Homo sapiens: one gene and its partners. Changing the gene in region 3 together with the main gene of any one other region gives a genetic interaction. Each region holds a gene or a part of one and is shown on either strand. Other genes may lie near its edges. The genes, in order: RNF135, PTPRS, ASPM and GNB5.

What was found.
Region 1: changes in ASPM (region 3) and RNF135 together harm fitness more than expected from each alone (negative genetic interaction), as found in Homo sapiens cells (one study listed by BioGRID).
Region 2: changes in ASPM (region 3) and PTPRS together harm fitness more than expected from each alone (negative genetic interaction), as found in Homo sapiens cells (one study listed by BioGRID).
Region 4: changes in ASPM (region 3) and GNB5 together harm fitness more than expected from each alone (negative genetic interaction), as found in Homo sapiens cells (one study listed by BioGRID).

Annotation. Positions count from the first base shown.
Region 1 is NC_000017.11:30,967,203-30,974,050, forward strand, and holds the start of RNF135 (E3 ubiquitin-protein ligase RNF135), read left to right. Parts: upstream 1-3,836; 5' UTR 3,837-3,871; coding exon 3,872-4,243; intron 4,244-4,261; exon of another isoform or gene 4,262-4,544; intron 4,545-6,848.
Region 2 is NC_000019.10:5,337,798-5,345,099, reverse strand, and holds the start of PTPRS (receptor-type tyrosine-protein phosphatase S isoform 1 precursor), read left to right. Parts: upstream 1-4,287; 5' UTR 4,288-4,436; intron 4,437-7,033; exon of another isoform or gene 7,034-7,302. UniProt on the Homo sapiens protein: Cell surface receptor that binds to glycosaminoglycans, including chondroitin sulfate proteoglycans and heparan sulfate proteoglycan.
Region 3 is NC_000001.11:197,143,662-197,151,336, forward strand, and holds the start of ASPM (abnormal spindle-like microcephaly-associated protein), read right to left. Parts: upstream 3,009-7,675; 5' UTR 2,777-3,008; coding exon 2,480-2,776; intron 440-2,479; coding exon 296-439; intron 150-295; coding exon 1-149. UniProt on the Homo sapiens protein: Involved in mitotic spindle regulation and coordination of mitotic processes.
Region 4 is NC_000015.10:52,188,387-52,196,151, reverse strand, and holds the start of GNB5 (guanine nucleotide-binding protein subunit beta-5), read left to right. Parts: upstream 1-4,759; 5' UTR 4,760-4,830; intron 4,831-7,765. Other genes in the region: MYO5C (unconventional myosin-Vc), read left to right, coding at 695-775, 2,098-2,250. UniProt on the Homo sapiens protein: Enhances GTPase-activating protein (GAP) activity of regulator of G protein signaling (RGS) proteins, such as RGS7 and RGS9, hence involved in the termination of the signaling initiated by the G protein coupled receptors (GPCRs) by accelerating the GTP hydrolysis on the G-alpha subunits, thereby promoting their inactivation.

The DNA of each region.
Region 1 (6,848 bases), on a different chromosome or scaffold from region 3:
ATTTTTTGGTAGAGGCAGGGTTTCACCAGGTTGGCCAGGCTGGTTTCAAACTCCTGACCTCAAGTGTTCCGCTCACCTTGGCCTCTCAAAGTGCTGGGATTACAGATGTGAGCCACCGTGCCTGGGCATAAATGCATTTTTGAAAGAAATGAGCCCATCTGTCTTATTAATAGCTATCATTCCAATAAAATGTTTACTGTCTTTAAAAGTTATTTTATTTATATAAAAGTTATAAATTGCAGCATACTTTTCTTTTGTTTGACTGCTAATAGTAATTATATTGATAATTAAATCCAGGGGAAAAAATTTACCAAGAGCCTTTTTGTCACAGGAAGTTAAGAAGAATTAAAAATTTAATACACATACATACTTTTGTTGTAGAGAAGTATTACAAAGTGATAAAAGACTTTCATGCATGAAATATATTGCTTTGGAATGTAATTCTGTGGAGGAAATGGAATGGAAATACAAGTTCAGAAAGATAAAAGAATGACAAAATTTCTTTTTTTTTTTTTTTGAGACGGAGTCTTGCCCTGTTGCCGAGGCTGGAGTGCAATGGTGCCATCTTGGCTCATGGCAACCTTCACCTCCCGGGTTCAAATGATTCTCTTGCCTCAGCCTCCTGAGTAGCTGGGATTACAGGTGCCTGCAACTACGCCCAGCTAATTTTTTTTTGTATTTTTCGAACTCCTGACCTCATGATCCGCCTGCCTCGGCCTCCCAAAGTCCTGGGATTACAGGCATGAGCCACCGCACTCGGCCAAGAATGACAAAATGTCTGATGTAGGCTGAGCGCGGTGGCTCACCTCTGTAATCCTAGCACTTGGGAGGATGAGGTGGGCGGATCACCTGAGGTCAGGAGTTCGAGACAAGCCTGGCCAACATGGAGAAACCCTGTCAACATGGGGAAACCCCATCTCTACTAAAAATACAAAATTAGCCGGGCATGGTGGCGAGCGCCTGTAATCTCAGCTACTCCGGAGGCTGAGGCAGGAGAATGGTTTGAACCCGGGAGGTGGAGGTTGCAGTGAGACGAGATTGTGCCACTCCACTCCACTCCAGCCTGGGCAACAAAGTGAGACTCCATCTCAAAAAAAAAAAAAATCTGATATAAATGAAGAATTTGCTAATATATTTTTACTACCAGAGCTGACCACTCTCCCCCTTCCCCCTTTCTTTCTTTCTTTTTTTTTTTTCTTTTGAGACAGAGTCTTGCTCTGTCGCCCAGGCTGGAGTGCAGTGGTGCGAACTCAGCTCACTGCAAGCTCCGCCTCCTGGGTTCAGGTCATTCTCCTCCCTCAGCCTCCTGAGTAGCTGGGACTACAGGCTCCCGCCGTCACGCCCGGCTAATTTTTTTTGTATTTTTTAGTAGAGACGGGGTTTCACCGTGTTAGCCAGAATGGTCTCAATCTCCTGACCTCATGATCCGCCCGCCTCAGCCTCCCAAAGTGCTGGGATTACAGGCGTGAGCCACTGCGCCCGGCCCCCACTTCCCCCTTTCTTATAACCACTGCATGATTTTGCATAAAACTTTTAGGGCGTGTCCAAGAAAAAAGTTTGAAAACTACTGGTTAACTCACTCTTTCCAGAAACTTGGCTGTGAAATGGAGAAGAGGAGAGCTGGTTCCAGGGAGGCTCAGGTCAAAGGTGATTTTATTTTATTTTTTAATTTTTAATTTTTTTGAGACTAGGTCTAGCTCCTTCCCCAGGCTGGAGTGAAGTGGTGTGATCACAGCTAACCACAGTCTTGACCTCCTGAGATCTCATGGCTCATTACAGCCTCCACCTCCCTGGCTCAAGCAATCCTCCCACCTCAGTCTCCTGAGTAGCTGGGATCACAGGCCTGCGCTACCATGTCTAGGTAGTTTTTGTATTTTTTTTGTAGAGGCAAGGTTTCACCATGTTGCTCAGGCAGGTCTCGAACTCCTGAGTTCAGGCAATCCACCTGCCTCAGCCTCCCAAAGTGCTGAGATTACAGGCATAAGCCACCACGCCCCGCCAGTGATTTCATTTTTTAAGTTGGAAGATCTGAGCATGTTTAAGTGTTTAGTATCATGCCCGTTTTACAGAAAAAAAGAGGCTCTTAGAAACTACGATTTTACTCCGATGCGGAGATTCTAGAACAAGATCCAGGTAATACATCAGTCAGGATAGGCTAGGTTATGCTGTAGCAGCACACACCCACTAAATCTCAGTAAGCTGAATACATCCTAGTTTTCTTCTCCCTCTTACTACGTATCCTAGGGTGCGTTGGCAGGGAGTCTGCTCATCTTAGCCACTCAGTGACCCAGGTCACCGGATGATGGTTTCATCTCCATAATTGGGGCAGCTGGCAGAAAGGGATACAATGGCCGGCTCAGTCGCCTTTAAAGCTGGTGGGAAGTAACATATTACCTCTGTGTGTTTCAAGTGGGTCAGGGAAGTGCCAGTCCTACCATGTGCCCAGAAAGGGAAAGCACTGGAAACGTTGATGAGCAGCGCTGCCTACTCCATGACACTTCCAGTATTAGAAATAACCACAAACGCTTTTTTTTCTTTCTTTTCTTTCTTTTTTTTCTTTTTTTTTTTTTTTTTTTTTTTGAGACGGAGTCTCCCTATGTCGCCCAGGCTGGAGTGCAGTGGCGCAGTCTTGGCTCACTGAAACCTCCGCCTCCCGGGTTCAAGAGATTCTCCTGCCTCAGCCTCCCAAGTAGCTGGGATTACAGGCATGCGCCAGGGCGCCTGGCTTTTCTTTTCTTTTCTTTTTGTATTTTCAGTAGAGATGAGGGTTCACCATGTTGGCCAGGCTGGTCTTGAACTCCTGACTTCAAGTGATCCAAAGGTCGGCTACAAACTTGTATTATCTGATACCTACTTTGAGCCCAGGCCAGAAAGGATAAAGTAAAGCATGAGACGTTGTTAGTTCATTTCAACAGATTGGGGAGTTGTGGGTTTTAGTCTCTGACGCTTCATTGTTACCATGAGAGCCTGCAAGTTTTTCTTTTTTCTCTTTTTTTTTTTTTTAACCTCTTTGGGTCATCTGGGAGGACGTGGTGCTCTTTTAGCTCTAACATTTTCTGGTTGCAATGCGTTTAGGACTGGGATGCGAAGTGAGTGAGTGAGTGAGCCTTCTCAGGAAAACACTTTCTAGAATTTTGTCCGAGTGTCTGTTGGGAAACGCGCTTACATCCCGCAGAAGGCGGTAAGGACACAGCGCACAACTCTGCATTATACCTGCGAGTTAAAAAGCCAAGGGTTCGCTCACTCAACCTTGAATGCGCGTCAGAATCACCTGGGGGAGGTTTTACAAAATACCCGTGCTCCACCCAAGACAATGAAATCAGACTCCCTGCGAGCGGGGCCGAACATCAGCATTTTTGAGGACGCTCCCTGTGGCTGTGCATCGGTGATCTTTAATCCCCTGCTACTTGTTAGAGGAGCTGGATGACACTTCGTGGGCTCATTCTCATAAATAAGCTGCTGAATGGAGTCCTCTCCTCCCAAGAGTTGTCGGTGTTGCATCTTTTTTGTTGTTTATTTTTTTTTAAGCCAACGGACGAAGACATCCAACGGTGCTGCATCTTAATGGAGGGACATCCAGCTAAAGGGAATCTTGGAGACCTCCGCGGGTTTCTAGCAGCTCGCGGCATGTTGGTTTCCCAGGGCAAGAGGCCGCCACTGAAGGTCAGCTCTGTCTTTCCAGCTGGGCACTGGAGGCTCTAAGTCTGTTTTCAGCAGGATCGGAGGAAGGAGACGGGGTGGCGCCAAGGAAGGAGGAGAAAAGGCGGCCGAGAAAAGGAGGAGGGCAAGGGGAAGAGGAAGGGCGAGGGAGGAGCCTGAGGAGACTCGCCCGGCTCAACCCCGACGTCCGCGCCCCGGCCGCCTGTTGGCCATGGCGGGCCTGGGCCTGGGCTCCGCCGTTCCCGTGTGGCTGGCCGAGGACGACCTCGGCTGCATCATCTGCCAGGGGCTGCTGGACTGGCCCGCCACGCTGCCCTGCGGCCACAGCTTCTGCCGCCACTGCCTGGAGGCCCTGTGGGGCGCCCGCGACGCCCGCCGCTGGGCCTGCCCCACTTGCCGCCAGGGCGCCGCGCAGCAGCCGCACCTGCGGAAGAACACGCTACTGCAGGACCTGGCCGACAAGTACCGCCGCGCCGCACGCGAGATACAGGCGGGCTCCGACCCTGCCCACTGCCCCTGCCCGGGCTCCAGTTCCCTCTCCAGCGCGGCCGCGAGGCCCCGGCGCCGCCCGGAACTGCAGCGGGTAGGGAGGCCGGGCCCGCAGCTCCCCTGGCTCCCCCGGGCTGCCCGCCGCCTGACCCTTTCCCATGTGGCTCGAACCCCTTTCCTCAGCCGTTCTACTTTTACGTTCCTTTTCTCAGTCTAAAAGTCGAGTTCCGCTCTTCGGAGGCACTTTGGAAAGTTCATAAAAGTATGAAGAAGTAGAAAAAAACAAATTCCCCATCTTCCGAAAGCTTGTCAACTTAGCTGTTACACAGCTTGGCATATTTCAACTTCTTCCCAATCGATCTTCGGTCTCTTTCTCTGAAACTTGTAAAATTGTGGTAAGATCTATATAACATTAAAACTGGCCATTTTAACCTTTTTCTTTATTTCTTTGAGACGGAGTCTCGCTCTGTCGCCCAGGCTGGATGGAGTGCAATGGCGTGCGTGATCTCGGCTCACTGCAACCTCCGCCCCCCAGGGTCGAGTGATTCTCTTGCTTCAGGCTCGAGAGTAGCTGGGATTACAGGCGTGCGCCATCACGCCCGGCTAATTTTGGTATTTTTAGTAGAGACGGGGTTTCGACATGTTAGCCAGGCTAGTCTCAAACTCTTGACCACAGATGATCCGTCCGCCTCGGCCTCCCAAAGTGCTGGGATTACAGTCATGAGCCACAGCGCCTGGCCTCATTTTAACCTTTTATTTTTTTGAGACGGAGTTTTGCTTTGTGGCCCAGGCTGGAGTGCAGTGGCGCCATCTTGTCTCACTGCAAGCTCCGCCTCCCGGGTTCACGCCATTCTCCTGCCTCAGCCTCCCGAGTAACTGGGACTACAGGCGCCCGCCACCACGCCTGGCTAATTTTTTGTATGTTTTTTTCTTTTTTTAAAAAATAGGGACGGGGTTTCACCGTTGTTAGCCAGGATGGTCTCGATCTTCTGACCTCGTGATCTGCCCGCCTCGGCTTCCTAAAGTGCTGGGATTACAGGTGTGAGCCACCGCGCCCCGCCTATTTTAACCATTTTTAAGTGTACAATTCAGTGACAAATTAGTTACATTTCCTGTTGTGCAACTATCACTTCTGTTTCCAAAACTGTTTCATCATCATAAACAGAAACTTTGTACTCATTAAGCAGTAACTCCTCATTTCTCCTCCCTCTAGCCCCTGCTCACATCTAAGCTACTTTCTGTATCTGAGTTTGCCTGTTCTAGATATTTCATATAACTGGAATCGTTCAATGTTTGTCCCTTTGTGCCTGGTTTCTTTCACTTAGCATAGTGTTTTCAAAGTTCATTCATGTTGTAGCATGTGTCAGAACTTTATTCCTTTTATGGGGCTGAATGATATTCCATTGGGTGGATGTGCCACATTTTTTTTGTTTGTTTTGTTTTGAGATGGAGTCTTGCTCTGTTGCCAGGCTGGAGTGTAGTGGCATGATCTTGGCTCACTGCAACCTCTGCCCCCTGGGTTCAAGTGATTCTCCTGCCTCAGCCTCCCAAGTAGCTGGGACTACAGGCATGCACCACCACACCCAGGTAATTTTTGTATTTTTAGTAGAGACGGGTTTTCACCATGTTGGCCAGGATGGTCTCGATCTCTTGACCTTGTGATCTGCCCACCTCGGCCTCCGGAAGTGTTGGGATTACAGGCGTGAGCCACCGCACCCAGCCTCACTGTGATTTTGATCTGGATTTCCTTAATGACTAATGATGTTGCCCATCTTTTCTTGTGCTTGTTGGTCATTTATAGATCTTCATTGCAGAAATGTCTATTCAAGTCCTTTGACCATTTTAAAATTGGGTTGTTTATCTTTTTGTTGTTGAGTTTTAGAGATTCCTTCTATATTCTGGATATCAAATTAGATATGACTCACAGATATATTATAAAATATATATTCTCCCATTCTAAGCGTTGTCACTTTCTTGATGGTATCCTTTGATGTGCAAAAGTTTTAAATTTAATTTTTATCTGTTGTTTTCTTTTGTTGCTTGTGCTTCTGTTGTCATATTTACAAATCCATTGCCAAATCTCAGTTCATGAAGATTTACCCCTATGTTTTCTTCTAAGAGTTTTTTTTTTTTTGAAACGAGGTCTCGCTCCTTTCCCAGGGATGGAGTGCAGTGACACGATCTCAGCTCACTGCAGCCTCCACCTCCCGGGTTCAAGCAATTCTCCTGCCTCAGCCTCCAAAGTATTTGGGATTACAGGCGCCTGCCACCACACCTGGATAATTTTTGTATTTTTAGTAGAGACGGGGTTTCACTGTGGGCCAGGCTGGTCTTGAACTGCTGACCTCAAGTGATCTGCCTACCTTGGCCTCCCAAAGTGTTGGGATTACAGGCATGAGCCACTGTGCCAGCCTCTTCTAAGAGTTTTATGGTTTTAGCTTACGTTTAGGTAATTGGTCAATTTTAAGTTAATTTTTGTATATGGTGTGAATTAGGGGTCCAACTTCATTCTTTTGTATGTGGAAATCCAATTGTCTTGGTACCATTTGTTGAAGAGTCTATTCTCCATTGATTAGACTTGGCATCCTTGTCAACAATCATTTGGCTGGGCCAGGCATGTGGTTCACACCTGTAATCCCAGCACTTTGGGAGGCCAAAGTTTCATCTAGAGATGAAACCCCATCTCTAGAAAAATACAA
Region 2 (7,302 bases), on a different chromosome or scaffold from region 3:
CCCAGGCAGGAGTGCAGTGGTGTGATCTCAGTTCACTGCAAGCTCCACCTCCCGGGTTCACGCCATTCTCCTGCCTCAGCCTCCCGAGTAGCTGGGACTACAGGCACCTGCCACCTCGCCCGCTAATTTTTTGTATTTTTAGTAGAGATGGGGTTTCACCATGTTAGCTAGGATGGTCTCGATCTCCTGACCTCCTGATCCGCCCGCCTCGGCCTCCCAAAGTGCTGGGATTATAGGCGTGAGCCACCACGCCCGGCAGGGACCACGATTATTATTATCCCCATTTACAGACAGGCAAACTGAGGCACAGCTAGAGTAGGGAGACACGCAGGAAACACACAAACCGGCCAAAATATAAAATCATTCCAAATCATGATAAATAATCTGATACTGAAGTAAAGATGATCATGTGGTCACCTCAGTGAGATGGTCTGGGAGGGTCTCCCAGAGACTCGAAGAGCAAGGAGGAACAATTGGCCTTGAGAAAAGCAGGAGGAACAGCATCCTGGTCAGAGGGAACAGACAGTGCAAAGGCTCTGTGGCAGGACCTTACCTGGTGTGTTGGAGGCACAGCAAGGAGGCCCGAGTGGCGGGAGCAGAGTGAGCGAGGGTGACAGAGGGCGGGGAAGGGGGTAGGTTATGCAGAGCTTGGTGAGCTGTGGGAAGAGCTTAAGCTTTTACTCTAAATAAGATATTTCCTATCTCCTCCCAGCACTGTTGACTCCAGGAATTTTTGCTCTGTTGCCCAGGCTGGAGTGCAGTGGCGTGCTTAGAGTTCACTGCAGCCTCAAACTCTCACATCCAAGCGATCCTCCTACCTCAACCTCCCAGGTAGCTGGGATCACAGATGTGTACCACCATGCCCAGCTAACTTCTAAAACTTTTTGTAAAGACGGGGTCTCCCTATGTTGCCCAGGCTAGTCCCAAATACCTGGGCTCAAGCCATCCTCCCGCCTCAGCCTCCTAAAGTGCTGGGCCAAAGTGCCTGGCCAACTCCAGGGATTTTAAAGACTGTTTTGTTTACTTCTGTTGTCCACAGCACTTCAAACAACCTGGGAGCGGGGCCGGATGCATGGCCTGAACAGATGGGTTTCCCAAGCACATGCTGGAATGTATTTTTTTTTTTTTTTGAGACAAAGTCTCACTCTGTTGCCAGGCTGGAGTGCAGTGGCGCTCAGCTCACTTACAACATCTGCCTCCCGGGTAGAAGCGATTCTCCTGCCTTCTGAGTAACTGGGACTACAGGCACGCGCCACCACGCCCAGCTAATTTCTGTATTTTTAGTAGAGATGGGGTTTCACCATGTTAGCCAGGCTGGTCTCAAACTCCTGAGCTCAGGCAATCCACCTGCCTTGGCTTCCCAAAGTGCTGGGATTACAGGCGTGAGCCACCGCACCTGGCCAACGTATTTTTTGTTTGAGAGGGAGTCTCACTCTGTTGCCCAGCTGGAGTGCAGTGGTGTGATCTCAGCTCACTGCAACCTCTGCCTCCCAGGTTCAAGCAATTCTCCTGCCTCAGCCTCATGAGTAGCTGGGACTACAGGCATGCACCATCACACCTGGCTAATTTTTGTATTTTTAGCAGAGACAGGGTTTTGCCATGTTGGCCAGGCTGGTCTCGAACTCCTGACCTCAGGTGATCCACCCGCCCTGGCCTCTCAAAGTGCTGGGATTACTGGCATGAGCCACCGCGCCCAGCTGCTACAATGTATTTTAATTCTGTTTTTGATGTATTTAATCTGTTTTCTTTGACTGCTCACAAAATCCCTCAGAGGTACTAGTGGTTGTCCCCCTTTTCTAGATGGGGACAGCTAGGCTTACAGTGTTGCGGCCACTTGTTTGAGGTCACCTCCCAAACAGGTCACTGGGCTGGGGTTCGTGCCATGATCAGCCCCTCCACGATCAGCCATCTCATTTTACTGTGTCTCCACCAATTCTCCAAGGCTTCAGCACCCACTGTGCGTGAGAAACCACGCTAAGCATTTGTGCACAGACCACCCCATTTGATCCTTCAAGATGGGATCGTGTTCCCATTGCTTGGATGAGAAAACTGAGGCCAGATTGTAAACGGTCAGATCAGGGTCACCCCACCAGGAAGAAAAACAAAGTAGGCTCTGCAAACGTGGCTGCTGCACTGGCCGCTGGGAAACTCCAAGCTTAAATTAGGTTCCTTGTTAAATTATTCATTATCTCCTCTCTTTTCTCCTGTTTATGACTTCCGCCTTATCGTTTTGTTCCCCGGGTTAATGCTTTTTGTTTATCTGCATCTGTGGCCTGGAATGAATGAATCAACAATTTTGGAGGAAAAAAAAAACCAATTCTAAAGTTGAGTTCCTCTGTTGGGCACCAGGCCTTCTCCAAATATGTGCCTTGAGGAAATAAATGCTTTCGACATGATCAAAACACAAGGACTGATGTGCAATCTTGCTTGGTGGCTGTGAGCCCTCCAACCCCCTTACCTTTGTCAATATCCCCCTTTTATTTACTTCCGCTCTGTTTTTTTTCCTTATTTTTGAGAGTCTCACTCTGTCGCCCAGGCTAGAGTGTGCAGTGGTGTGATATTGGTTCACTGCAACCTCCGCCTCCCGGGTTCAAGAGTTTCTCCTGCCTCAGCCTCCCAACTAGCTGAGACTACAGGCACCTGCCACCACGCTCGGCTAATTTTTGTATTTTTAGTAGAGATGGGGTTTCGCCATGTCGGCCAGCCTGGTCTCGAACTCCTGACAAGTGATCTGCCCACCTTGGCTTCCCAAAGTGCTGGGATTACAGGCATGAGTCACCGGGCCCGGCCTCTTTTCTCTTATTATTCCATCTTCAGGCACCAATGGCAGCCAGGCTGCCACATTATAGCAATTCATCATCACACCCTCCTTAGGAGCAGGGGCTACCTTGCCCCATTTTACAGATGAGAGCTGAGATCCAGAGGCAAATCCATTCTACAGATGGGGAAAGTGAGGCTCCGGGCCTCACACAGCAAATCAGTGTTTTAGCTGGGTTCCAACTGTGGCTCGTCCTGACTCCAGGGAAGCAGGGGATGGTAATTAGGTGAGACCTGTGTAAAGTGCTTACTCTATAAGAAGTGCTCCATCATCCATTCATTCATGTGTTCAACCTACAATAGGGATCTCTGGAGCCACACTGTAGTGTAACTAGAATAAAAACGGGATAATGGGACCAGGCGCGGTGGCTCACGCCTGTAATCCCAGCACTTTGGGAGGCCGAGGTGGACGGATCACTGAGGTCAGGAGTTCAAGACCAGCCTGGCCAACATGGTGAAACACTGTCTCTAACAAAAATACAAAAATTAGCCAGGCGTGGTGACAGCACGCCTGTAATTCCAGCTACTCCGGAGGCTGAGACAGGAGAATAGCTTGAATCCAGGAGGCGGAGGTTACAGTGAGCCGCGATCACGCCACTGCATTCCAGCCTGGGCGACAGAGTGAGACTCCGACTCAAAACCAAACAAACAACAACAACAACAACAAACCGGGATAATGGGATAGAGTGGAGTGGGGCGTGGCTGGTAGCTGTTGTCAGGGAGGGCTTCTCCCAGGCGCTGCTTATTTGAGCAGAAATTGGAAAGATGAGAAGGGGAAGTTCTTGGATGCTCAAGTTAGAGGAACTGTAAGAAGCTGGCTGAGGCGGGAGGATCACCCGAGCCCAACTACTCAGGAGGCTGAGGCGGGAGGATCACCTGAGCCCAGGAGTTTGAAGCTGCAGTGAGCTATGATCATACCACTGTACTGAGGCCCAGGTGGCAGACCCCATCTCTGAAAAAGCAAAGAAGGAGCAGCTGGTTTTTCTGGATCATTGACATGGTGGGGGGGAGGGGACAGGGTAGTGGGCGCTAATGTGAAACGGCGAGCTGCAGAGAGGAGGCGGGATTTTATTCCAAGGGTACTGGGGAGCCGTGGCACAGTTTAGGGCAGCGCACAGAAAGTGCCATGCCCTTTGCACCCAGGACGCTGGGGCTCCCGCACGGACAGTAGCCCCAGGGGCCCTTCCCGCCGCCGCCGCAGCCGCCACCACCACCACCACCCCAGCCGCCCACGTGTCCCGCGAAGCCCCGCGCCCCACGTGCTCCCGCGGCCCTTTAAACACCCCGGAGCCACGTGACCGCGCTGCGCCGTCCCATTGGCCGGGGGGCGTGGCGGCCGCGCGGCTGCGCAGTGACGCGCACGGGCCGGCCCTGCCCCCGACCCGGCGGCGGCGGCGGCGGCGCTGGCGGAAGGGATGACGTCACCGGCTGGGGGGGCGCGCGAGCGGGAGCTAGGGGAGCGCGAGCCGCAGTGAGTGTCCTCGCGCCGCCCGCCCGGCAGCCCGGCCGGCGCGCGCACGCCGCGAGCCGCTGGCGCTCGGGCTCCGCTCGGATCCCATGCAACAGCCACGATGTGAAGCGGGGCAGAGCCGGGGGAGCCCAGCCCAGCCAGCCTCCAGGTAAAGCCAAAAAAAAAAATAAAATCATGGATTAGAGGAAAAAAAAATGCAGGCGCTCCAAGGGGGGTCTCGGAGGCAGCCGAGTGGGCAGCGCGCCGGCTTTGTGCCGGGGAAGCCTGCACGGCCATTGTGCTCGGAGGATGCTCGGCTGCAGCCAGTTGCACGCCCAGCCGCTGCGCCCCGGTAGCTGCGCCCGGACAATGCCCCGAGGGACAGGGCCGGGGCCGCGCTGGGGGCGCTCGGCAGGGGGTGCTGGGGGGGCTTCGTCCGCGGCGTGGGAGGGGGCTGGGCTGGAAGCGCCCAGAGCGCGGCATTGGAAGCTGCCCAGCGCCGCCGGCTGCACCACCCCGGGCTGCGGGCGGGGCAGAGGCGCGGAGGGGGGCGCGCGTGTGTGCGGAGCCGGTGCCGGCCCCGGCGGCGCCCGGCCCGGGTCCCCGGGCGGGTCCTGGAGGCAGGGGGCGCTGTGCCGGGGGATGGGGGGCATGCGGGCGCCCCGGAGCGGAGAGGAGCCGGGACGGGTGGCTCCAGGCGGGGTGGCTCCAGGGCTGCTGCGCCCGCCGCCTTCCCTCTCCGGGTCTCCCTCCCCTGGAGACCCCCTAGTCTACGCCGTCTCCCCTGGAACACTCCGGGCCCTGTCGTTGCCTTATGGGAGGTCGCCCCTCCGGCACTCGGGCATTGCCCCACCCTTCTGCGGCCTCGGCGCCCCCTTCCAGCCTCCCCACCCAGGGGCGAGCCTCAGCCCCCAGCCCCAGGGGCTCTGGCAGGCAGACGCGCACGCCCAGCACCCCAGTCTCCCCTCCGCGCTGGGGGCCCCGTGGGGATCCCGAGAGTGGGGAAGCCGCCCCTGGAACCGCCAGCCCCGCGGGTTCCGCACGCCCCGGGAGCCCCCGGGGGCTGCGGGGGGAGGGGAGGTGACGTCATACCGGGGGCGGGGCCGTCGGCACTGGGTTAAAGGGGGCGCGGGGCGTGCCCTGAGGGGAGCCCCCCAGGTTAGAGTGCCCGCGCCGTGGGTGCGAGGGTTCGGCCAGGTTGCGGCCAAGTTCACCTCTCTTTATGGGAATCTCTCCTAAAATTAAGATCCTCCCCTTCGGACCTCCCCCTACAAATCCTGGACATTTCCCACCAATTCCCCCCCTTCCCAAATTGGGGAACTCCCCTTCGGCCGCTTTCTCTCCAGAATCCTCAAATCAGGGAACCTTTCCCACAAACTGGGAATCTTTTTTTCAGCCACACCCCCCGCCCCAAATCTGGGACCTCCTTCTTCGGTTGACCCTCTTTCCCCAGTCTCAAATCGTCTTCTCGTCTCCCTAAATATGCAGCTTCCAAGAACGCCCCTTCCTCTGCAACCCTTCCTCAAATCCAGCCACCTCCTGGGACCTCATTCCCCCAAATTAACAAACCTCCCAGAGCCTCATTGGGGGTGCCTTGCCTCCCCCTTCTGGGCTCAGCTGGGATTCCCCTGTCCCCCCCCGTCACAATCTAGGGGAGCCCCCTTCTGAGCATGGGGTCCTCCTGCCTCTGGCCGAGACCCTAAAAACACATCCCGGCAGCCGCGGCTAGTGAAGCGGGTGTCCGAGGTGTCGGAGTCCCGGCTGAGCAGCAGGGATGATACCTAGAAGCCGGAGGAGGCAGGAAGAGACCCCTAGGGTCCCAAGGACAGGGACCCACACGCTCCGGGCTCCCGTCCGCCACCACCCGGACTTTGGCTGCTGGGATTCTGGCCTCCTCTGGGTGGCCCCCTATCGCTGCTGTCCTTGGGGTGCAGAGGGTGACGGCGCCTCTTTGTCTGGGGCGCCCTTCTTCCCTCTTTCTGCCGCCTTTCGCCCGGGAGAAGGAAGCCATCCCGCTCCTCTGCTCCTGCGATACCAGCGGCAGCTGCTGGAGCGTTTATTAATGGCCCAGGGACTTGGTCGAATCTGCCATTTGCATAAGTCCCCTCCCCCTCCCAGGGTCCCTTCCTTTGTGCCCCCCTCCCCCTGCCAATCGCGCCTGCCTTCTGTCCCTCTGCTCTTCTTTCTTTGCCAGCTGATATTTTGGCGGTGGAAGGCAGGCAGCTGGGGCTGGGGGCGGCTGCTTCCCGCCCTCAAATCCCACAGCCCCCCAGCTTGGGCCTGACTGAGTCCCCACCTGGGCATCCCTCCCCTACCCCCCCGCTGCCCTCCACAAAGCCTTCCGTGGGGCATCTCTTTCTGGCTGGCAGGCTGGCGGAGTCTTCATTATTTCCCTCCGGGAAGCAGGGTCCTGCCCTGTTCCCCAGGCCCGGGGGACACCCTCATCATGACGGTGCACTTCTGCATGGGGGCTAGGCCTCCCAGCCCCCTGGGGGCCACCGCCCGCCATACTCCATCATCCTGAGAGTTGTTCTAATTGGGCTCAGGCAAACAAAACGTCGCAGGAGACCCAGGCTGCCTGGTGAGCTCACGCACTTTTCTATTTCTGCCACCCTGGCCGATGACATTGCCCCTAACCCCCCAGGGGGTGACAGAGACTGGTACTGTCAGTGGCCGTCCAGAGATGCCGTCCCAAGAGGCGGTGGACTGGCCCGCTCCCCACTCCCCGCGGGAGATGGGTGACAGGTCATTTTGGCGTGGCCCGGCTGAGGCGCTGGAGGGTGCTACTGGTTGGCAGGTCAGCTCCGGGGACGATTTCCCCCTCTCCAGGAAACCTTGAGAGCCTCTGAAGTCTGCGTGAGGTGGCGACAGAGAAGGGGACATTCAAACCCCAGGTTCCTGCCTGCTGCCAGCAGAGAAAAAAAAATCACTCCTTATACCCCGGTTGAGCGTTCAGTGCGCCTTTTTTCCCTGCCTCCCAGGGGATTTCAGGCATCGTCCAGTGTCCATGGACCCTGCTTGGAGACACAAGTCCA
Region 3 (7,675 bases):
TTTTCACAAGCTTGTAGTGGGCTCCTAACTCTGTCAACTTTTTGGGAAACACTAAATGTTTTATTAACATTCTGAATATTTGAAACCCTTCTGTTGTGACTTGTAGAGGCTGAAATTTTCTTCTTTTTAATGGTATCCCAAAGACTCCTCTGCAAAAATAAGGAAAATATACCAATTAAGTTTGTAGCTATTGAATATTAAATAAGCAATATTACTTCAAGCCTGTTATCAAAATAAGTTTTATTTATTATTAAACAATTTCTTAGAGTAAATCACAGAATGGTTAAAACATTACCTTTTTCTTTTTCTGCTCTTCTGCATTTCCTAGTAATATAGCTTGGTGTTTCAGAACATCATTTACAAGAAATGTCATAATCTCTCTTACTCGGCCTTCTTTGAGTGGTGTCCAGTTAACAGAAATAACAATTTTCTCTTTAGGCTATAATCAAAACAATACATTATATAATTACAATAGTAATTACATAATAACCAAAACACCTTATATACAACTTACAATATAGTAGGGCTTAATAATTGTTAACCAACACTCTATATACTAAACATTTAATAAATCAAATATATTTCTCCTACCCTATCTGCTTAATTATAAGAAAAAAAGTCACTAAAAATAACAGGGTTCACAACAAAATAAATAATAAAATCTTAACTGTATTAAAGCAATAGAACAGATAGTCTCTAAATCATTTTGTTTGAGTGGTTTCAAAAGATTTAATTGTACATTTCTAATTTTTAGATGTGTAGAGTACTTCTACTTCAAACACAAGGACCCTGCATTATGAAGACTTTATTTAAAAAGAAATGTAAAGATGATCAGCTAAATTCCTTCTTCCTTACAAATTCCTCTAAGGTCCACATCATCATACTGAGATTTCTTAAACAGGTATTATTGTTCCAGGCATAAGTGCAGGTATCCTGTAAAACTCATTTAATGCTAACATCCCTAGGAAGCAGGTATTATGATTATGCACATTTTACAGATGAAGTAACTAACATCCAGAAAAGTCTGCCAAAGTCACGCAGGTACCTATTAGAACCCAGGCAGTCTAATGCCAGAGTTTGGACTTTAACATCTACACCCCACACCCTGGCAGGTAGACAGAATCTGCCAAATTTAAACGCTGACATGACAAAACAAATTTTGTTTTTCAGGAGAAACAGACAAGTTTCTGTTTTAAAGGAGAAATAATATAACATCATAAACAACTAATTTTAAAAAATAAGAATGGTGCATTTTTACTCTATAAAATAGTTTATTCTAAAAATACCACAAAATTTAGTTCCACATTATAACAAAAAAGAGTAAGTTGAAGTATTATGTGGATAGAAAAGAAATCTGTCTTTCCAAAGAAAGGAAAGCAGGCAGTGATTCATGAAACAGAGGGGCGGGGTGGGTAGGTTCTGAAGTGTAGATAGATGAACCATTGGTGACACACAAGTTAAGGGACCTCAGATTAGAATCTCTTTTTTCTGCCTAATGAAGTGGTTATTAGCCTACTAGTTCAGACCTCCTCGGCTAACGGTTTTCATACTTTTGGTGATTCTACTCAATGGAAAGGTCACAGCAGTCAAAATAAAAACATAAATTCTCCAGTCTTTGGTGAAGGGGATTGGAGCATTACTCTTGCAAATGCAATGCAGTAAAAGAAAGCTACAGGAGTTCTTGAAACAACATTTATAAAATTAAATTTGATGCAGCATTAAAATTACACTTAACAGCAAAGAAAAAAAGGACTAAAATACTAAAGTGTGCATACATACTACACGTATATATTGAAAACAACTCTGAATAGGTTTTTTTGGTTTTTATTGTAGGCATTTAGCCAGAACAAAGCTCACTATTTCACCGGAAAAAAAAACCAGTTACCTCGACTCTAAGGGTACATATGGAAACTAAAATGCATATTAAGATGGCTGATAGAAATTTTAAAAAAAGCTGCTTTAACCAACCAAGGTACTCCTGTCAATCTTAAAAAAGTGTTAAAAAAGTGCATTGTCTATTAATTTAGAACGGCAAGGCTATTTCACAACGCCTTAAGTCTAGTAAAAGTGCTTGTCAATTTAACAGAGAAGTCTATATAACTTGCTCCTAAAGATGCTAAGTGCGCGCGCGTTTATGTGTTGTCCCCGCCCAAGTTAGCGTCTATCCTAGCCTTCAATTAGAGAATATATATATATATATATATATAATATTGACACATATATATATACTCACACACATGTGTATGCGTCAAGGGCCCACCCACAGTTATTGAAAAGGAACTGACTTCACTCTCTAAGGGTCTTTTCTGATTTCTTTTCCAAGAGCCACCCACAGTTATTGAGTGAAAGGGAACTGACTTTATTCTCTAAGGGTCTTTTCTGATTTCTTCTCCAATCGTCAACCTTCCTGAGGAGGGTGGCAGGAAAGATAGCGGAGAAGCAGAACACCGGCCTGGAGCACGCTCCTCCTGAGACCTACCTGCAACACGAAACAGCGCTGCGACACACTGAAGCCCAGGTCCGCGGCCGGGAAGTGGGAGATCTTCACTTCTGCCACCTCCTCGTTAGGGTTGTCTAGGGCCAGAGACAGCGTCCGTGAGGCTCCCAGGAGAACGTCCCCGAAGCAAAGGAAAGGAGACCTGCAGAAGTGGCTGAGAGACAGGACCGGCGGGGAAGACGCCTCCTCCTCGGCCGCGGGGCCCCGCAGCCCCGCGGGCGGCCTCCGCTCGGTCGGGCTCACTTCCCAGCAGCCTCGCCCCACTCGCCGGTTCGCCATGGCAGATTCGAGACCCCTCCTGGATCTCCTTGCCCCGCTCCCACGAGGCGGCTCCGGAGCGGGGATCCGGGACTTACGCTGACCGCTTCCCCTCAGGGGCGGCTGTAGAGGTCGTGGGAGTGAATTCGGCCCTTTTTCTTTTCCACTAACCTACTCCCTAGAAAACAGAAAACAAGCCCAATAAACTCGCAAATTAAAAAGAGGAGCCAAACAAGTATGGCGTTTTGACTCTGTTTAAACTTGCCGCCTCCACCAATGAGGACCTCCGGGCACCGCCCTCCTCGTCACGGGACCAATCGGTGAGCAGCATCCCCTGGCCAATGAGACGGCGGCGCTTCATTTGAATGATTGCATCCGGCCGCCAATCGCTATCTGCGGAGGAGGTGAGAACGGTAGCGGAATCCTGGCCACCGTCTAAAACCCGGGGCTTAGAATTGAAATTCGTCTTTATATTTTTGGTTGTGCTGAAGGGAAGGGAGTCACAGCATTTCCACAATACATGTAGTAATCATTGCGGTTTCCAGGAACAATCATAGATAAAACTGTTACGTAGGCAAAAATTGGTTTATGCCACTCCTCTCATATGCATACCCCGCCCAGAATTATATTAACTTTACTGTCGCGGTTTCCAGGGCTGAATGGTAGAGATGTAAAGATAATTAGTTTGTATGAACATGCTTATTTTAGTGACAACATAGCAGGGACTCAGTACATTTACATGCTGTTAATTACCTCGGGACGCTGGGAGCAAAACCAGGTAAACAAATGAAACCTGAGATTACCAGTAATTCATAAATGATTGTTTTGACTGGCAATGCCCTTCACAAATATCTTATTAGTTTTTATTTCAATTGTAGGGATCTAATAATAATTATAGCTTACATATTAGGGATTTTTTAAATTATTTATTTATTTTGAGATGGAGTCTCGCTCTGTCTCCCAGGCTGGAGTGCAGTGACGTGATCTTGGTTCACTGCAACCTCCGCCTCCCGGGTTCAAGCGATTCTCCTGCCTCAGCCTCCCAAGTAGCTGGAATTAGAGGCGCGCCTCACCACGACTGGCTAATTTTTGTATTTTTGGTAGAGAGGGGAGTTCGCCATGTTGGCCAGGCTGGTCTGGAACTCCTGGCCTCAAGTGATCCGCCTGCCTCCGCCTCGGCCTCCCAAAGTGCTGGGATTACAGGCCTGAGCGGCGCCCGACCCTAGGCTAGGGATTTTTTAAAAATCCTTTACCTATTTATCTCAACCTTTGCCTTAAACCTACGAGGTATCTCTTAGGGCGTAGGTACCATTATTTGTATCTTACAGATGAGGAATACAGGTCATACAGCTAAGTAGGAAGTGGCATAACCCAGATAGGTACACATGCCTGTAATCCCAGCAGTTTGGCCCTAGTCTTGCTCTTACCCACTACACTATATTGCCTCTAAAGGCAGTAGAAAACTTAAAAAATAAAAATAATGTCTGGATGTATGTATGGTTACACAAAACATGTAAAAAGAGAAGTCAATGGGAAATCAAAATAAGGAAGATGAGACATGAAATTATATTCAATGGTGTCCAATTTCACCTGAAGTTGGACCTTAACAATATTTAAACGAAATTTTTCCACTGGGCACGGTGGCTCAAGCCTGTAACCCAGCACTTTGGGAGGCTGAGGCAGGCGGATTCTTGAGGTCAGGGGTTTGAGACCAGCCTGGCCAACATGGCGAAATGCCGTCTCCACTAAAAATAAAAAAATTAGCCAGGCGTGGTGGAGCATGCCTGTAATCCCACCTACCCCGGAGGCTGAGACAGAAGAATCGCTTGAACCTGGGGTGGGGGGTGGGGGCAAGGTTGCAGTGAGCCGAGATCATGGCACTGAACTCCAGCTTGGGCAAGAGAGCAAGACGCTGTCAAAAAAAAAAAAAAAAAAAAAAAAAATTCTTTCATAGAGGCTTAAAAAAAAAAACAACAAAACAAAACCCTGGAGCAGAGCCTCACAAGTCATTTCCAGTTCTCCTCAGCATCTACCCCCCACGACCTCTCCATTAGCTTAGTTAGGCTCCAAAAAATAAAACTTGGACGGAGGAGAGTGCAAGATATGCTGTGGGAGGGAGGAAACAGCCTATACAGCAAAGAGTTAAAAGATTTTGACAGTCTAAGGTGGAATGTAATGGTGTTAGACCAAGAGGACAAATCATAAGGAACAATAAGGCCAAATTTATTGTCATGGGTGCACTTTACCCATTTAATTAATACAATGTCCGAAGTACCTGGGAATGGCTTTAATAGTTTAATAGGTTCACTAATTGAAAACTGAACTCAGTAGTGGTTTACAGTCAGGTAGGTCAAGGCCAGGCACGGTAGCTCATGCCTGTAATTCCAGCACTTTGGGAGGCTGAGACAGGAAGATCGCTTGAGCCCAGGAGTTAAAAACCAGCAACAAAGTGAGACATGGTCTTTATAAAAACAAAAACAAAACAGGCAGTTAGGTCAAAATGCTCAAACTACCTGGCATTCTGTACACGAAGGAGTCCAAAAGCTCAGGAAGATAGGAATGTTGGAGAAAATCTACATGTGCAACCTGCTTGGCCAAGTCACATCTAAACATGCACACCCTCCACCCATTCTCCTTTTACCAAGGTGTTGATAAATGCATTAACTAATAAAAAGGACTCCAGCATCCATGAAAAGACCTGGGTGACTATTTTTTATAGGCCAGAAATGATGATAGAGGATCAATAATGAAAATAGGTTCTCTGATCTCCATGTGAATTATATGATCCACAAGTGGTCAAAGTCGATTGGCACTTAATAGACAAGGTGGTATAGTTCTTACCACAATATGCTAATGGCAGAATTGTAATTAGAGGCAGGGATCTGTGGCAATGGCCAGTTTCTCAAGGGCCCTATAAATAAGATGAGCTATATACTATGGTGCTGCCTAACATATATAGGCAGAGAAATACCACATATGCAAAGCAAAAAACCTAACTGAAGCCAATGTTGTGGCAGTTATGCCTTTTACCCACTTTCCAAACTTAAGACAGTTCATACACCCAAAGCTCCTTGACTAGAAAGAACCCTGCAACACGAATACCATAAATCTTCTCTCAACAATTCCCCAGAGGGAACTGCAGTCATTTACCCACATGAATATGGATTGGGGGCAGGAACTTGACTTCCTAAGGGTTATTAGATAATGAGATAATAGCTCTGCCTTTCTGCTATACTCCAGAATCCTAAAATGTCACTGTGGACCACCAGACATAGTGAGAGCTTCTCAAGAACCGGTGACAGATGGCATCTAAGTCAGAATCTGTCTTACCAAGTGTCCTTTGGATCCACCCATTTCCAGAATATAAAATAGGAACACTTACTGACCACATTCTCACACTGGTTCCTAGATCCAAGGAACAAGGGCAATTATTGGAGAAAGGGCCAAGTGGAAGCCCCTGAAAATCACCATTTTCCCACCACGGCAATTCAGAGATTATTCTGAATACCTGAGAGATGTTGGGATAGTGATTTTGTCCATATACCCACTTTCTCCACTTATTTGGCCAGTGCAAAAGCCAGATAGATTCTGGAAAATGATAGTAGATTATAGCAATTAGGTGATGATGCCAATTATTACACTACAGTTTCAGATGTGTTATTTTTATACACAAATCAACATACCTTTGTCAGCTGGTTTGCAGCTATGAATCAAGCAAAATGCATTTTTCTTGTTTTTCCCCATTCATCCAGTATTGAAAAACCGAAGCACTTTGTACTTAAGTAGTGGTACAATGCTGTAGCATTACTGTCCTGCCTCAGGGCTCGTCAAATTTCCTACCTATACTGTAATATTGTTCAGAGAGACCTGGATCTTAGTATCACACTGGTCCATTATATTGATGACATTTGCTAATTAAACCTGGTGAGCAAGAAGTACTTGTCAAGAATTGTGTGAGTCTGAGATTTTATCCCTCTTGCAAGCTAAAGAGTTAGCGTGCCAGTTTCATAAAGGCCAGCAGAAAATATGACAGTTTTGGGTTAGAGACAAGACTTTATTATTCACAGAAAAAACAGTAGCTAGAGTGTCAGCATGTTCATTCACATTGATTCCTCCTGCTTCCTAAGTCTCATGGGACCATACAAAGGGCCCTTGATGGATGCCTGCACACACAGTGGGTTGTATTACAGGAAAGGAAGAGCGAATTGGAGATTTGACTGTTTTTATAGTACTATGCCTGGGCAGGGAGACATCCTATCGTCCCTCAAGATTTCTGCAAACACAATCCTGAGAAATGGCCTATGTAGAAATTAATAAGGGCTTCACATTCTTAGCATAGCCAGCAAGAATGTGTAGGCCTGCTCAGAGCCCATGGTAAGTTGCATCTCTCAACAGGAGCAAGCACTGTGGATGCCAATAATAAAACAAATGTAAACCAGATGGGACAAAGTTCAGGGTCCTATCACATCTGTAAAGTTTTTAGGGATCCAATGGTCTGAGACATGTCAGGCTATCTCTTCTAAAATAAGAGGCAACTTGTACTTTGTATCATTTGTAAAGCCTCTTTAGATTTTGGAGGCAATGCATGCATTATTAAGACACATCTCACCAAACCATTTACCTAGTAAACTCTAAGACTGACATTTTTGAGTTAGGCCTGGAACAAGTAAGATCTCTGCAGTAGGTCTGGGCTGCAATGGCCCAAAACACTCATTCCATGACAATCCAAGATGTGGAATAGAAGCTCTGGCAAGTTTCCAGAGAAGTATCACAGTACAAAATTCCAGGTTTGGAGAATAAGACTATGCCTTCCTCTGCAGAAAATCATCTATCATTTGAAAAACAGATCCTAATTATGCTATTAGGTATGGTAGAGACTGAATGCCTCATCAAAGGACTATAAGTGACTGTGATACAAAC
Region 4 (7,765 bases), on a different chromosome or scaffold from region 3:
ATTTATTAAATACTAACACTAGGTCTTAAAAACATAGAAATGGGCTGGGCGAGGTGGCTCACAGCTGTAATCCAGCACTTTGAGAGGCCAAGGTGGGAGGATTGCCTGAGCCCAGGAGTTTGAGACTAGTCTGGGCAACATAACAAGACGCTCTACCAAAAAAAAAAAAAAAAAAAAAAAAAAAAAAAAGCTGGGTGTGATGGCACACACCTTTGGTCCCAGCTACTTGGGAGGCTGAGGCGGGAGGATCGCATGAGTCCAGGGGTTCGAGGCTGCAGTGAGCCATGATCATGCCACTGCACCCCAGCCTGGGCAATAAAGGGAGACCCTATCTCAAAAATAATAATAATAATAATCACACACACACATATACACAAATGTCTATGATGCATTCATTCCCTGCCCATTAAACTCACAAATGTGTATGTGGAGGGGTGGCCATGTGGGAGGTGGGGAGGCTAGAAGGGGGCTCCTCTTACTGTTTTCTGATTATCTGATTTGCCTTTGCTCCCTAAGGCACTTTTCTCCCCTTGTTTTCTTTTCTTGGAAATAGGTAACATACAGTTCCTGAACCAAATTATAGGCTAAAAGAACCACCTGTGCTTCCCAATGGTTCCCAATAACCAGAACCATTATTTTATGAACAGAGTTATTATTTTGCATGGTCTAACACCATGTTATGTACCGTTTGCAGATCATAAAGATCCTTAATTCATACACACCTATAGATGACTTTGAGAAGAGAGTGACTCCATCCTTTGTTCGCAAAGTACAGGTGAGATTCTTAAGGATGTGCCTTTTAATTTTACTTCCTAACTATGGTATAAGATGTTGATACTTAATTAACATTATAGAAATCCAGGATTAAAGTACATTTACCCACATATACAAATGAAAGGCACCCAGCTCAAAGGTAAGCAGGAAATTTTCCTGTGAAATTTTCAGAATCCACCTTAGTCCAGGTGGGAGGGGAATGAAAGCACCAAAATCATGTCTCCCGTGCTGTATTCTGTCAATATATCTTATTTCTTACTGATCGTTGAATACTGTGCAAGTGGGCAGAGGCTGAATGGAAACAGAGACCATTTTTCTTTTATAATCATTTGTATAACCATTTTTTCTTATATAATCCCTAAAGTTTGTCCCCTAAGGAACTCTAGGGCAGCAGTTCTCCAAGTTTGGCTCAAGGATCCCTGGGAGTCCTTGAGACACTTTCAAGAGGGTCTGCAAAACTCTTCCTTTTTCTAAATATGTACCTGTGGATTTTCTAAGTAGGTATCTGTGGATTTTCTCAATAGTTATCTGTGGATTTTCTTCGTGTACTTCAACCAAAATAACATATCACAACAGATTGAATGCAGAAGCAGATATATATGATATATCGTATATATGATAATATAGCATATATATTAAAATATGGCGTATATAATATATGGTTATATATGATAATATATTAAGTCAGACATGAAAGAGATTTGCAAAAATAGAAAATACCACTTCTCACTAAATTTTCTTTGTTTTGGAAACTTATGTTTAACATGTGTAGAGCTTATTTTAATGAATTAATAAATCATTTTAATTACTAATATGGCAAATACCGATATACACATATACACAATGTATATTTAATTACTAATATGGCAAATGCCAATATACCCATATACACAAAAGCTTTTGGGGCCTCAGTCATGTTTTAGTATAAAGCGGTCCTGAGACCAAAAAGGTTGCAAACCCATGAATGAAGAAGAAAGATGGGTTCAATAAAAATGTAATACTTGAAATCTACTCATGTTTGACCTTAGAATTATGCCATGAGAATAGATTAGAATAGAAAACAGATTTATGGTCAACTCATCCCATGGGAAATTAACTTCTGAAGTGAAACAGGACAAGTTAATTGTTCTGAGAGCTGATCTGGAAGCCCTGGATAGACTTTGGAATTGTGCTGTTGTTAAAAAGTTCTCATGTATGTCATTTCATGTGATGGTGCAAGGAGCTCTCCACTAGAGATAGCTGTGTTTTGCCTTGACTTTCAGGTAGCAGTAAAGCAGAACATGTTAGTTTCCTTACTCATTTTTCCTCTGATTCTAATTTCAGGCTCTCCTAAATAGCCGGGAGGATTCATCACAGCTGATGTTGGATACCAAATATCTCTTTCAAGTCACATTTCCTTTTACCCCCTCTCCACATGCTCTGGAAATGATTCAGATCCCCAGCAGTTTCAAGCTAGGCTTTCTGAATAGGTTATAGCAGGAGAAAAAGTCAATGCACTTTTTCTTCAAAAGCTAAGTGAAGGTTCAATATGAGGGATGTGTTTTATTAATTGGCAGTGGAAATTGGAATGTGATTTAAGGAAGAAAACAGACTTTTCTCAAATGGACCACATCATCTCTCACTCACAGTGACAATGCTGCTCCTGTAATTTTGTAAGAATTCACACACACCAGCTGTATTTGGAAAAGCCATGTCTCACTCTCGAATCTCAGCTGGTTTTCACTGAAATTCCTGGAGGGCTCATATTTTCTTCCACGTGCCTCTTGATCTGTTCTGTCTTGTGGCAGGGCTCTACCAGGAGGGAGTGAGATCTGGGGACACAGTGGCTTCCAAGTTTTCTAAGGTTCATGTGAAACCTGAGTACATTTACAAAGCTGCAAGTGGATTCTAGTGCTGAGTCTTCCAGGAAAAAATCCCGTTTGGCCACCGTGACCTGCCAAAAGTTCTCTTGCCCCATGCCTGCTGGGGACAGAAGGTTTTCATGAACTCTTTTTACTGAAAATGCCCTGCATTTAAAAATGTTTATTTTAGACCCTTCTAAATTTTTTTTTTTTTTTTTTTTTGAGACTCCGGAGTCTCGCTCTATCGCCAGGCTGGAGTGTAGTGGCATGATCTCGGCTTATTGCAACCTCCGCTTCCTGGGTTCAAACAATTCTCCTGCCTCAGCCTCCTGAGTAGCTGGGACTACAGGCACCTGCCACCACGCCCAGCTAATTTTTGTATTTTTAGTGGAGACAGGTTTCACCATGTTGGCCAGGATGGCCTCGATCTCTTGACCTCGTGATCCGCCCACCTCAGCCTCCCAAAGTGCTAGGATTACAGGCGTGTGCCACCGCGCCCGGCTGACCCTTTTAATTTTTAAGAGTGTTCAATCCGAGATGAATCATTTGAAGTATTTTTATATGTATATCTATTTAAAACTAATATATTATTAAAGCTTAATTGCCATGCCGTTTATCTTCTCTGAAAGAACTTCAAATCTTACCTGCCAACATATTCACCATAATTTTTTTATTTTTTAATACCTTTCATACAATAACTTTTTTAAAACAACCTCAGATTGAAAAAGCAACCTAAATTACTTTCGCTCTCTAATCAGCATTTCAATGTATTTATTTTTAAATTTTCTCAAAAAGTAACTAAAAAATTGTGTCGGACCCTACTTTTGAGAAATCTACGTTTCCCAAGTTTTATGGGAACTGGCTATTCCTTGTCCCGGCACACCTTCTCATTCCTTCCTTTCAGAGCCTAAAACCTCATTTGATAAGCACTCCTAGTCTCTGGCCTGTGGATCCAGTGCTATTCTGTCACCAACCTAAGAATCCCAATTGCACCTTCTGTTTCTGACAGTCACAGGTGACAGCTGTGATTCTATAATACAGACTGGTGTCTTAGAGGTAGGAATAATACATGATTATGAAGCATCACCCTGCTAATACATAATAATGTCTTTTTATATTATAAGTGATTGAGTTTAGTTCATTTCAATACATTGTACATGAAAAAATGAAAAGTAGAACTTTGTAATACTTTAATCAATAAAATTAATTACCAAATGAATTGGGTCAGATTCTTTCATTGCGAGGAGATGACATGTCTCTTAAGTGTACAAGTTGTATGCCTTTCTTTACGGTCATACTGAAAGATGCTAGAATCTTTATAGATTCATAATATCTCATTTAAAGTATATTAAAATGTTTAGAGAAGAAGTAAATATGTCATAAGTGCTGGCTTAGGCTGTGTCTCCAGGGCGCTTCCACACTGTCAGAATGAGGGGCTACTTGGCAGAGAATTGGCAGGGTTTCTGATCCTGAGCTGCGGCCTCCATGCCCTTTCTAGACCTTCCCCACACCATGAGGAGCCATCACTGTTGGTTTTCGGCTTCCATAACTCAGGATTTATGCCTGTTTTATAGCACTTACCCTGGACTGGAAGCCAGAAATGCTGCCCATTTCCTCTGTAGGCCTGTGAGCCCCAGAGGGCAGGTGCCACATCCTCCTCATCCCTGCCTTCATCCTACTGCTGATGAGGTGGGAAGAGAACTGAAGGAGCAAAGTCCCGTTGGAGGACTGTGTGTGTGTGGTGGGGAGTCAACCATGGGAAAAAGTAGGTCATGTTTGGGGACAGGGAGACCTGTGGAGGCTGAGGAGTTTATGTGTGGAAAAATGGGGAAAGGGAGGCACTCATCCCACAGTCTTGATCAGTTCTACAAAGCTGACAGTGGCAAGGAGACCAAAATAGAGAAATGTTAAGAACATGTGGCCCAGGTGAATGTGAGGGCTGCTCAGTGAGTGGGCGCAGACACAGAGGTCAAACCTGCCAAGGCCTCCCTCCACAGAGGGGCTGGGCAGGTTCCAGGGGTGAGTGAGGGATGCAGATGGCAGTGCGTGCCCAGCAGGGAGCATGGAAGTGCTGTGGAGGAAGGAAGCAAGCTGAGCAGCACTCCAGAGAAGATAAGGAGATTAGCCAGTGGGAGACGTGCTTCACACCTCAAGCTGCGCGCTGGTCCTCACCTCTCACCATCTGCTCTGTGGCTCCCAGTGCTGACTCTGGAAGGTATGTGCATGCTGACATTCGGTTAAAATACTCCAGCTTTTGAAATGCTCAGAAAAGCATCCAGATGAGTACAGGGCACAGTGTTAGCAGGTCTTTCTGTGCGGTGGGAGCATGGGTGAGGGGTTTTGTTGTTGTTAATCCGTAGAATCTAATTTTTCTACAATACACATGAATTTATTTTGAAATAGTAAATTTCAAATATTTCAAATTGAAATATTTCAATATTTTTTACATTAATATTGGCATCAGGAAAGAGATTAAGCATACTTAAAATCACTAAGTCAGTTTTAAAATTTGATCCAGGTGACACATGGCAACATAAGCCTCTGAGTACAGCTTATGGGGTTAGAAAGAGGTTTTTAGTTGTAAGTCTGAGATACATCCACATTGTGTGTATCAGTTATTTTTTATTCTATGCTCATTTCACAGTTTCGTCTGTGACTGGTGAACATTTGGGTCTTTCAAGTTTAGGCCTTCTATGAATAGCTGCTATGACATTTATGTTTTTTTTTTTTTTTTTTTTTTTTTTTTTTTTTTTTTTTTAAGGAAATAAGCATTATTTTCTGTGGTGTATGTATGCACGAGTAGAATTGCCTGGTCATAGACTATATCCGTTTCACTTTAGTAGCTCCTACCAACCAGTTTTCTACAGTGGTTATACCGACTTATACTCCCACTAGCAGAGAAAGGCAGTTCCAGTCTCTGCATCCTTGCCCACACTTTGTGTTGTCAGGCTTTTTAGGTTTTCTGATGGCTAAGTAGTTGTATCACATCGTAGTTTTACTTTGTATTTCTATGATGACTAATGATAATGAGCACCTTTTTATATGTTTATTGACCATATAAGTATCCTCATTTGTGAAGTGACTACACAAGCCTTTTGTCCATTTTAAAAATAATCTTTGGGCTGGGCGCGGTGGCTCATGCCTGTAATCCCAGCACTTTGGGAGGCTGAGGCGGGCAGATCATGAGGTCAGGAGATTGAGAGCATCCTGGTTAACACGGTGAAACCCCATCTCTACTAAAAATACAAGAAATTAGCCGGGTGAGGTGGCGGGCGCCTGTATTCCCAGATATTTGGGAGGCTGAGGCAGGAGAATGGCATGAACCTGGGAGGCGGAGCTTACAGTGAGCCGAGATTGCGCCACTGCACTCCAACCTGGGCGACAGAGCAAGACTCTGTCTAAAAAAAAAAAAAAAAAAATTTATTGAGATATGATGTCCACGTTTTGTTTCATGTTTTAAAACCCATCATTTTAAAACATATATTTCAGTGTTTTTTAAGTTTATTTACAAGGATTTGCAACCATTGCCACTGACTCCAGAGTATTTTCATCACCCCGAAAAAGAAATCCCATACCCCTTAAGCAGCCACTCACTCTCAGCTCCCTCCTTCCCCCTTATTCTCTCTTCCCTCCACCTCGCAACTACTCATCTGCTTCATGTCTCTATGGATTTGCTGATCCTGTACACTTCATATAAATAAATCATACAATATGTGGCCTTTTGTGTCTGGCTTCTGTCATAGGATAGCGTTTTTAAGGTTTGACCATGTTGTAGCATGTGTCAGAACGTCATTCTTTTTTATTGCTGAATAGCAGTCTACTGGAGGGATAGACATTTTGTTTTTCATTTGTCGGTTGGTGGACACTTGGGTTGCTTTCACTTTTGGCTAATAATGCTGCCATGAAAATTAGTATGTACATTTTTATGTGAACATATATTTTCTTTTTTTTTGTTCTGAGACGGAGTCTCACTGCATTGCCCAGGCTGGATTTCAGTGGCGCGATCTTGGCTCACTGCAACCTCCATCCCCCAAGTTCAAGCAGTTCTCATGTCTCAGCCTCCCAAGTAGCTGGGATTACAGGCACCTGCCACCACGCCTGGCTAATTTTTGTATAGTAGATATGGGGTTTCACCATGTTGCCCAGGCTGACCTCAGGTGATCTACCCGCCTGGGCCTTCCAAAGTACTGGGATTACAGGCATGAGCCACCACGCCCAGCCAGTGAACATACATTTTCAAGTATCCTGGGTATATATCTAGAAGTAGGATTGCGGGGTCTTATGGTAACAGCTGTATATTTAAGTTTTGAATAACTGCCAAACCGTTTTCCACAGCTGCACCATTGGAAAACGGCTACCCCACTTTACCTTCCCACCAGCAATGTATGAAGGTCCTTTTGTCCATTTTTAATTGAGTTAATGAAGCAGTATTTTAAAAGTAAAAACTGGATATACCCTATGTATCCAAACACGGAAGTTGGTTTAATAAATTATGACACTCCACAGCATAGAATAATGCTGAACCTATTACCAAACAAGGTTGATCTATAAGTGTTAACAGAATAAGTTAGATGAAGAAAGCAAGTAGCCCTATTTGCATGACTACCAAAGCTGTATCTATGTGTTTGTGCCAGAAAAGTCTGGAAGAATAAACAACAAACTAAGGGCAGTGAAAATGCAGGGCATGTGATGGGGGATTCAAGTTTTACTTTTTCATCTTTGGTACTGGTTCTTTTTAAAATAAACACGTATTTCTGTGGTAATTTTTTAAGTCACATATTTAGGTAAAACAGATATCAAAGAAAGTTTGTGCTTGGCATAAAGTTATTAGGGGAAGGTTTGAGAAGTTCTATGAACTACTGCAGAGCAACTTCATGTCAAAATTTGTTAAATGGGGCATTTCTGTCTTTCTTGTCAAAATGCTCATCGAAACATTGGCTCTAGCTGTGAAAAATTCTCTCATCATAAAAAGGATATTGACAATAAGTACAACAAAGTACTAAAATTTAGCTGATACAAATACTAAGTGAAAAACATCAAGATACAGAAATGTAATCAGTATACATGAACAGTATGACCTCAGTGGTCTCAAATCTATTCTTGCTACACCAAAATGTAAAAAGAAGTTTCTCTGAGTGGTGGGATTATAG